Homo sapiens: one gene and its partner. The protein of the gene in region 2 purifies or fractionates together with the protein of the main gene of each other region. This does not show direct contact. Each region holds a gene or a part of one and is shown on either strand. Other genes may lie near its edges.

The links.
Region 1: the proteins of TMCO6 (region 2) and PHYHIPL purify together in Homo sapiens (affinity purification with mass spectrometry; 3 studies listed by BioGRID and IntAct, with this or other methods). This does not show direct contact.

The regions. Positions count from the first base shown.
Region 1 is NC_000010.11:59,175,348-59,179,442, reverse strand, and holds the start of PHYHIPL (phytanoyl-CoA hydroxylase-interacting protein-like), read right to left. Parts: upstream 2,801-4,095; 5' UTR 2,590-2,800; coding exon 2,484-2,589; intron 2,280-2,483; exon of another isoform or gene 1,853-2,279; coding exon of another isoform or gene 1,825-1,852; intron 1-1,824. UniProt on the Homo sapiens protein: May play a role in the development of the central system.
Region 2 is NC_000005.10:140,637,372-140,642,843, reverse strand, and holds the start of TMCO6 (transmembrane and coiled-coil domain-containing protein 6), read right to left. Parts: upstream 3,394-5,472; 5' UTR 3,317-3,393; coding exon 3,232-3,316; intron 3,106-3,231; coding exon 2,993-3,105; exon of another isoform or gene 2,980-2,992; intron 1,180-2,979; coding exon 1,064-1,179; intron 975-1,063; coding exon 791-974; intron 530-790; coding exon 425-529; intron 354-424; exon of another isoform or gene 259-353; coding exon 173-258; intron 1-172.

The sequences.
Region 1 (4,095 bases), on a different chromosome or scaffold from region 2:
CAAAATAAATGTATTCTATCATAAATTATGAAATATAGCTCTTATTAGGTACTTAAACACAAAATAGATCTTCTGTCCCATATTCTGCCACATCCTTTTCTATGTTACATAGTTACAGAAGTAAAATAACGAGACTTGAGTGGAAAGAAAGTGAAAGGAGGGAAGCAAAGGGAGTAAAAAGCAACTAGCTGAAAATCTCTCAATACAAAATGATGCTAAGTAAGGTCTGTTTGACAAATTTAATGCAACATTTCATATGCTGTTCTATTAAAAACAAACGACATTATTCCCCCTAAATTATCCCTTTGAAGCCAACCAAGTTAATATTTTTGGAATTGACATGTAAGATAGGATAACAAAATAAGTTAAGCATTTAACAACATCTCTAAACAAAGTATTTCCAAATTTTATACATCTTCTAGTAGAAGAGTTAGCTCTTTGTATTTGTTGGTGTATACTATTTTATAAAATAAAACCCTATTTAATTAGTCTATGTAAATTACTTGGAAGTCTGCAAATAGTAATTTTCATAGATGTTACTTAGTGCCAGCACCCTCCCCAAAATTAAATGTTACATAATTTGTTCATTTTGTGGGATTCCTAATTTGAAAAGAAACAACTAAAAAATAATACCAGAATAAAATAGCTACTCCTCTAGGGGATCACAGTAAATACAGCATTATTTTTTGCACTCTCTTAACTCTGTGAACTTCATTAAAAAGTTTAAATTTTCCCTAATATCTTTGAAACACGTGGTAAATGCGGTTTTAAGTATTGAGATTACTGGGTTCTGAAGAGCAACAATGAATGCCTAATTCCATTGAGTACAAGAATGAGCTTTTGCTTTATCATTGCAATAAATAAAAATGAAGTCTACTTTTATTAGTCTTGTGTTTCTCTCAACCCTAAGAAAATAAAAATATTTACAACTTGCAATGGTTACATTACAAAAAGTCATTTCATAAAAGTCTAAACTAAAATCCAAATGACTTCCTATGCGTTATTAAAAATAATCTTTACAGTCTATAATCATGCAAGCTTACATATGGAATACCAAAATGATAAATGTTTTTAGATACCATAAATATGTGCACTTACTACCATGGTGACTAAAACAGTCTAAGAATAAAGGAAATACAAGCTGTCTTTGCAAACGTATTTATTTATTCATATACTACACCTGTATCAGAAATTAAAGTGGTTTTGGTTTCAAAAAGTTTGAATTCTGGTTTCAAAATTATTAAATATAAATTTATATTAATAAATATAAAATTTAGTAATAAACAAATTCGGTGCTTGCTTGATATAAACGTGCTGAATAGCAATGCGTAACCAAGTGATTACCATTTAAATGACTTTGGAAACAAGACCTCTGCTCCCTATTTGGATTAGGCTGATAAATTTTATGACCTTACTGTGAGCGTATTAGTATCTGTACATAACTTTGGTTAAAGACATGTTTTACAATCATTACCTCTATATACAGTTAAACATTAATTTCATTTACAGTCAAAAGTATTTGGGGCCCTCTTAACAACATGTGAACTGTGTTTCCTTTGTCAGATGTAGAATTTTACAATTATTCGGCCAACCAATTACTAATCAAATGATTTCTTTACAAATGAAGTTTTGTACCACATTACTAAAGTAGCAGACTCTAACTAGTCCAGCTAACCCAGAAGCACTGTAACTAACCACACCGCACACAGCACTAGCTTATGTCTTCAACGCTCAGACCTGTATTCAATCAATTTCCTTCCACAGGAGCCTGCCAACTTCAACAACAGAATAAACGATATAATATCAACACGCAATGGTACGTACTCGCCACAAAGTCTGAATCACAGCACATATATTAGGCCAATATTTTCGACAGTCTGACTCAGAGCCCAGGAACCATGAAGATTGTGTCTGTCCTTGGTGCTGAAATGCACTGTTTTTCTGCGCCCTCACTGAAAAACTGTCATCCTAATCCCAATCCAAGAGGCTAAAAAGACTTGTTAATTTGGGGAGTCTGAGGATGGGAGGTTTAAAAAAGAAAATGATAAGTTTCTGGAAGAGAATGCCAACTAGTGTGTGTGTGTTGGGGGAAGGGGGTTGCTAGAAACATCCCGAGGGCATTTCCCCTTCAGTGCCCAGAGACCCAGGAAATCCGGACTGCGGCAAAGATCGGAAACGCCTCGTCGGGGCAGGAGCCGCGAGCGGGAACGTCGCCCTCGTCCGGGCCAGGCGGGCGAAGGCGGCGAAGGGCGCCACGGTTGTGGACGGCTACTTTCCGCGCCAAGGCGCGAGCCCCGGGGTCCTTTTGTTTCTGGGGTGAGGGGAGGGCGGTGGGCGGAGGGTAACCCACATCTGCATTTATTTGCACAGAGGGGACAACAAAAGACCCTGCCGCCCTGGCGAGCGGCGTCGGCGGAGCCAGAGTGGCCCCGGCGCCTCGGCGCGAACTCTGTCCCTTTCCTCGCGGTCCCGGCCGCTCTTACCGTCCCGGTCGCACAGCTGAATGGCCTCCAGGCTGAGGTTTTTGATCACCTCCTCACAGGGGCTGGTGGGGCTGTTGAGGGCATGATCCAGGCGCGGCACCTCCATTTTTCCAACCCACTCTGAAGCCCGCCTGCTTCGTATCCAGGCTCTCTCTGCCGGCCGGGTGGGCAAGAAGAGCGGGAAAGGGAGGGGGAGTGGCAGAGGGAGGGAAGGAGGCCTGGGACGCGGTGATGCGGCGCCGAGGCTGAGGCGCGGGGCTGGAGAGCCGCCGCGAAGGCGACGGCTGTGGCAGGAGCTCCGCGGAGTGTGCGGCTCTGAGAGACCGAGCAGGACCCGGCGCGAGGATGGGAGGCGCGCGCTCCCGGCGGGGAGGGGACGCTGCTCTCGGGGAACGTGATGTATAGGGCTTCGACGCGCGCACGCGCGCGGGAGAACGCGCCCACCTGCTGGCGCGCGGTGGTCCCTCCCCCGCCCTTCTGCGCGCACGCGCCCCCACCTGCCCTCCAGCCACTGCCAAGGCAACCTCGCGCGTGAGGCGTCGGGCGACCGAGCGCGCGGGAAGGGCGAGCGCTATACGCCGCGCGGCTGCCTCGCCCTCTCTCCTGGTGATAGCCATTTGGCGTCTTCTGTCTGCTCTCGGTGCCTGGCGAAGCCCGAGTTGGCCCTGAGGCGTCTGCACGGGGAGGCGAGGGCGAGCATGTTTGTTGTTTACCAAGAATTGGAAAAATAAGGGCCCGGACTCTTCGGACTCTCTGTACGGTATTGGGGTGTGGGAGCCACCTCCTCCCCTGAAGGTCCCAGGATACTCGCTGCCCGCACCCTGCGGGCTCGGCCGGACATTCCTCGGAAACAGCTGCGTCTGTGTGAGAAATGAGCGGATTACCTGAGGCGTGGAGGGGTTTAGAGACAGCATTTTGCCAGTCCACGACACTGAAGCGGGGCAAACGTGGGAACTCCTTACTGCCAGAAAGGTGAGGGAATGAGGAGATGCAGCAAGCCTGCTGAAAAGGCGGCAGACATGCTGCGGGGCCAGCAGCCACGGGACCAGCAGCCACGCAGTCTGCCTTCGCAGCGTAGCTTCATTCATTCATGCGCGTAGCAAATAAGTATTCAATGCTCACCCTATGCCATTGTTCTGGGCGTCAATGAAGGGAGTATAAACAGCACCTGCTCCCATGGATTTGGAAGGAATCTTTGCTACAATAGCTAATGAAGATTGACTTGTGCTTCCTCAAGCTACTCTATAACTTGTATGCCCATTGATTTTAATTGCATTTAAGATTCTGCAGTGCACTTAGTGGATGTGCAAACGTTTTAAACATAAAATAGAGGTCACAGCCTATTGACCTCTGTTCCCGTTTGCTTCTTTGGAAAAGTTTTTAGTTTTGTTGCTATCTTGGGATCAAAAATAGTGTCCCCTCTTTTCTTAATGTGCTTATAAATTAATATAAGTTCCCTTTTATTGATTTTCCATTTCAAACATAAATGTTAACCAACAAGTAACAGTTTACACATAGATGTCTGTATGCTGCTCTTTCTAGTCACATCCATTTAGCTATAACATGATGAAGTCTAATTAATTGAAGCTTCAATAAATGGAAGGACCAGCTT
Region 2 (5,472 bases):
TGTCCAAACCCAAAGCCCTGCCCAGATGGGAAAGTGTCCAAACCCAAAGCCCTTCCTAGCCAGACACATGAATTTAAAATGTGCAACAGCTTTGGAAATCATTCAGGCATCCGGGAGCTATACTACTGAGTGGGTCACCTCTGGCTGCACATCTAAAGACAATTTTACTCACGGAATGATCTTCTCTGGAGCTTCCTCAGCCTGTAGAAGCTGGGACAAGGCATATCCGAGAGCTTCCAGCACAGCCACATGGGGGGACTGGAAGTAGACAGGGTAAGGATCTGACTGGAAGCTGGGTCATCAGGTCTTCAGAGACTTTCAGCCCCTTGGCACAGGGCAGAGGCTGGAGCTACCTAACCAAAGTAGATGGAGCATGTGGGGAGGAGCAAAGGAAGGGTTGCCCAGGGAGGAAGAAAGGAGTCACCTGGATGCAGGCAGCCAAGGCTGGAACAATGCCCTGTGGCAGGAGCTGCCTTCTCACAGCCTCACTCTCCACGATCAGGTTACCCAGTGTATACAGACACAGCTCCTGAGAACAGGCAACAAAAGCACTGGGCTTGGCCTGTTTCATGCCAGGCTGCGTGTGGGGAGATGGGGAGGGGAGGTGATGGGGACGCTGGAGCAGCTATCCTTGCGGCTCACAAGAGGGTGGGGAGATGATGGGTGTAGCCATGGCTGTAGGCATAAGGGCAAACATGTTTTCTTCCTCCTACCTGCCAGCTCAAACTGGTCCCAAAAGCACAATTTTAAAATCTAAACCAAGAACAAGATAGGAAGGGACAGGGCTTACTATGAAGTCTGAGCTGTGACTGGAGAGGTAGGTGAGGAGGTAAGAAGTGGCTGGCAGGCAGGCCTCAGCAACAGTGGACTGCTCGGAGTGAGAGAGCTCATGCAGGCACCGAGCCGCCTCAAGCTGCAGCAGGGCCTGGTTGCTGGTCAGGAGCCCGACCAGGGTCCGCATGCTGCCCTCCAGCCTATGTGAGTGAGTACCAGAGCCCTGCTTAGCTTGTGGTCCATCCCTCAGAGCCCCAACTCCTCCCTCCACCACACCATCCACACTGACCGGATGAAGGTTTGCTGTGTTTCAGGGTGCTGCAAGCCTCGACGAAGGCTGACCAGAGCCCCCTCTCTCTCCTTTTCCTCTGTCCCCCGCTGGGCTTGCCGCAGGAACTGCTGCACCTGGAGTTCAGGGCAGGGAAAGGAGAACACACGGTTCACAGAAAGCAAGTCCTAAGTCTCTCTCTGCCCACTTCACCTGTGAGCCTTCCAATATCACACCTTCAGAACTTGTCATTCACACTAATGCAACTAATAAGCATCTACCTTGCAGTGGAGTGGACAGAGAATCAGAACTGAGTTCTAATACCATACCTGCCACTTACTCCATATGGGACCTGAACCTAAGTTTCCTCACCTGAAAATGAGAATAACAATATCTATCCTGCCTTCATACAGGGTTCTTTCAAGGATATTTAAACCTCTCAGCCTGGCAAAACCTACTCCTCTAGCCATTCTCCCCATGCAACCTACACTCTAACAACAACCAGCCTAACATGAGCTTTTTCTTTTTCTTTTTTTTACATTTCCGAGCTTTTGCACATGCTATTTCTTCTGCCTGGATACCCTCTCCAGCTTCCCACTCTCTTCAGGTTTCTGCTCCTCATTTCCTCTGGGAAGTTAGCTCTTTTTGAGAGACTTAGGAGTTTCTCTTGTTCCTCATGTTTCCTTCCCTTGTGACATCTGTCTTCTTCACCGGGCTGTGAGCACCTCAAAGAAAAGGACTCTATCCTTTCATCTTTGTGTACCTCAGTGACCAGCACAGTGTCCTGGCATAAAGTAAGCATACAATGGAATAGTATGACCTAGGAATAAGTTGATAATATATATGTCAACATGGTATGTACGGTAAACTATGTACGTAAACATAATACAAATACAGGGGATACTCAATGCTTACTGAATAAATCCTTTCATTCACTCATTCAATAAACACTGAGTACTTAACTATATGCCAGATAATGTGCAGGCAACCGGGTTTTCAATGACAACACAGGATCTAGGTTTTCCTGCAATTAAAGTCTAGTTGGAGAAATAACAATAGACAAACCATTAGATAATGATTAATATTCTACAAGAAACAAGTAGGTGGCCGGGCACAGTGGCTCACGCCTGTAATCCCAGCACTTTGGGAGGCCAAGGCGGGTGGATCATGAGGCCAGGTGTTCCAGACCAGCCTGACAAACATGATGAAACCCCGCCTCTACTTAAAATACAAAAATTAGTGGTGGCGCGCGCCTGTAATCCCTGCTACTCGGGAGGCTGAGGCAGGAGAATCGCTTGAACCCGGGAGGCGGATGTTGCAGTGAGCCGAGATCATGCCACTGCACTCCAGCCTGGCGACAGAGCGAGAGTCTCAAAAAAAAAAAAAGAAAAGAAAAGAAAAAAAATAGGCTCTCAAGACAGAATACCAAAAGAAACGAACGTTAGACGTAGCGAATGCCAAGGGCTTGAGACACAAATCCGATATATCGTTGCAGGAACTAAAAAGAGGACGGTGGGTAGGATGAGAAAACTGATAAAATTTGAGTTAGGAAGAGGCTAGACCATGCTATGCTTTGCAAGGCACAGGAAAGATTTTGGTCTCCACGTGTTTTTAAAGGACGTAGTGACGGTGACAAGCATAGATGCAGGGTGACCTTTTAGGAGACTGCAGTAGTATCCAGAGAGGAGGTGGTGGTGGCAGCTTCGATGGTGAGGCATGTAAAGACTCCAAAGCTCTTCAGGAGGTAAACAACTAGGACTTGATGATGGATCGATATGGGGTTGTGGGTCAAAGAGTTGTGCAGGATGATTCCCCTGTTTCTGGCTTGACCCACTGGATGCGTGGAAGTGTAGAGTGGATTGCGTTCAGGTTTGGGGCAGACCTCGAGTACTCCCGGGAGTCTGGCGCCAGCGGGCGTGGACTCCAGCGCACCCTACCTTGCCCCCTCACCTCGGTTTCCCCGAGGATCGCAGCCACACATCCCTCTCCAGCTTCCTCTGGGGCGTCGTTTCTCAGCAGCCTCTTGCTGACCAGCTGCTGCTCCCTCCGCGCCTTCCGCAGTGCTGGGGGCAGAGGAGCCGGCTGAGCGTGGGAAGGACGACCACAACCCAGAACCCGCGGCTCCGAGCCTGGGGTCTCAACTTATCCCCGACCGCCATATACCCCCGCGCTCCCTCGGCCGCCCACACCTGCCTCCCGCTCCCGCCGGCGGCGCCGTAGCTCCTCCACCCCGCAGACCGTGGGCCTGAGGCGGCCCTGCCGTCGGCTCCACATGGTGGAGCAGGAGGAGGAAAGCCGAAGGAAACAGCAGCCACAACGCTCCCAGGGGCGTAGAAGATGGCACCGACTGCGCAGCCTCAGCACAGGGCGGGAACAGGCGGGGAGGGCGCGAGGAGCGGGGTGGGTGCTGGGTGAGGGCGGGGCTCGGCGAGTGGACGCCTCGCGGGGACGGTGGGCGGGGCGAGGGCTAGAGACGCTGCACCACTAGACCAGAGCCAGAGGCGTCGCTCTGCCTCTGATTGATTTCCTGTCTTACCAATTCTAGGAAAAAAAGTCTCTCATCCCTGACCTCGAGTGACCCAAGCCAGCAGTGTCACAATCTACTCAGCAAACACAACTTCCCCACCCACAATACGCTCTAGATGAAAGTTCAAAACAATCCCGAACTGCGGGAAGCGCCATGATGCCGTTTCACTATTAATGCGGATCCCACTGATGAGAGCTGCCAAAAACGCTTGAAGCGTCATTGAATTGTCAACGAAAAGAGTCCAACTCTGTAAAATATTTGAAGAGACTTATTCTGAGCCAAATATGAGTGACCATGGCCCTTGACACAGCCCTCAGGAGGTCCTGAGAACATGTGCCCAAGGTGGTCCGGTACAGCTTGGTTTTACATATTTTAGGGAGATATGAGACTTCAGTTCATTCAAGAAATACACTGGTTGGGCCGGGCCTGGTGGCTCATGCCTGTAATCCCAGCACTTTGGGAGGCCTGGGCGGGTGGATCAGCTGAGGTCAGGAATTTGAGACCAGCCTGGCCAACATGGTGAAACCCCATCTTTACTAAAAATACAAAAATTAGCCGGGAGTAGTGGTGGGTGCCTGTAATCCCAGCTACTCGGGAGCCTGAGGCAGGAGAATCGTTTGAACCCGGGAGGCGGAGATTGCAGTGGGCCGAGATCGCGCCCCATTGCCTGGGGTACAAGAGCGAAACTCCGTCTCAAAAAAAAAAAAAAGAAAGAAAGAAAGAAAGAAATCTGGGATATGATGAGGTTTCTCTTCAAATAATTAGATCAATCTTTTATTCTTTAATTCATAGTACTCCCCCCCACACACACTTTTGTTTTCCTTTTTCTCCTTTTTGCCTTCGTTAGATGCCGAGGCACGCCACAGTACAAGACGTTATCAGTACCAGACGTTATCAGTACCAGCTCACATTCCTTTCATTATTTGGAAAGAGGACTAACTTTCTAGTTCATTACAGGCACCCCTTCCCCTTTCCTCTCCACTTTCTTTTACGTGCCCACATTACCTAAAAAAATCAAATGTTTAGCCAACCGGGATTAGTTCAGATTGTATGACCCGACCCCGGCCAATGGGGAAAGGGTACAGGGGCAGGACTTGCGTCAGGAATAAAGGCTCTCGTGCCCCTTTGTTCAGGTGTGCTCTCATGGCGACTGGCCAAGCAGACACCCCTCTGAGCAGAAGTAAAATTGCTTTGCTAATAATCCTTTGTTCGAGTGTTCAATTTCCCTTAGGATTTTGAGCGTTATTCCTAAGAGAAAGAAAAGAAAGAAAGGAAGGAAGAAAGAAAGAAAGAAAGAAAGGGAGAAAAGAAAGAAAGAAAAGAAAAGAGGAAAGGAGGAAGGGAAGAGAGGGGAGGGGGAAAGAGAGAAAGACATTGGTTTGTGGGACAACAGAAAGGCGGGACAACTCGAAGTGGGGCGGTGGGGGGCTTCCAGCTTATAGGTAGATTTTAAATTTTTCTGGTTGACAATTGGTTGAGTTTCTCTAAAGACCTGAAATCAATAGAAAGGAATGTCTGGGTTAAGATAAAGGATTGTGGAGACCCAAGTTCTTATTTGCAGAGGAAACCTTCAAATCCTAGGCTTCAGAGAGAATGGGTTGTAAAATGTTTCTTATCAAACTTAAAGTCTGTGTTGATGTTAACGGTAGAGAGGTATAATGAGGCACGTTCAACCCCTACTTCCCATCATGGCCTGAAACGGTCACTCGGGTTTAATTTTGAAAGAGCCCTGGCTGAGGAGGAAGTCCATTCAGATGGTTGTGGGGGGCGGCCTTAGAATTTTATTTTTGCTTTACAGAATGTTCACCACAATGACCATTATTCTCATTTTATATGTGATGAAAATGAGAAAGATATCATTATTTCACTTCTCTGCATAAAACTGAATTCCCATAATTTTTAG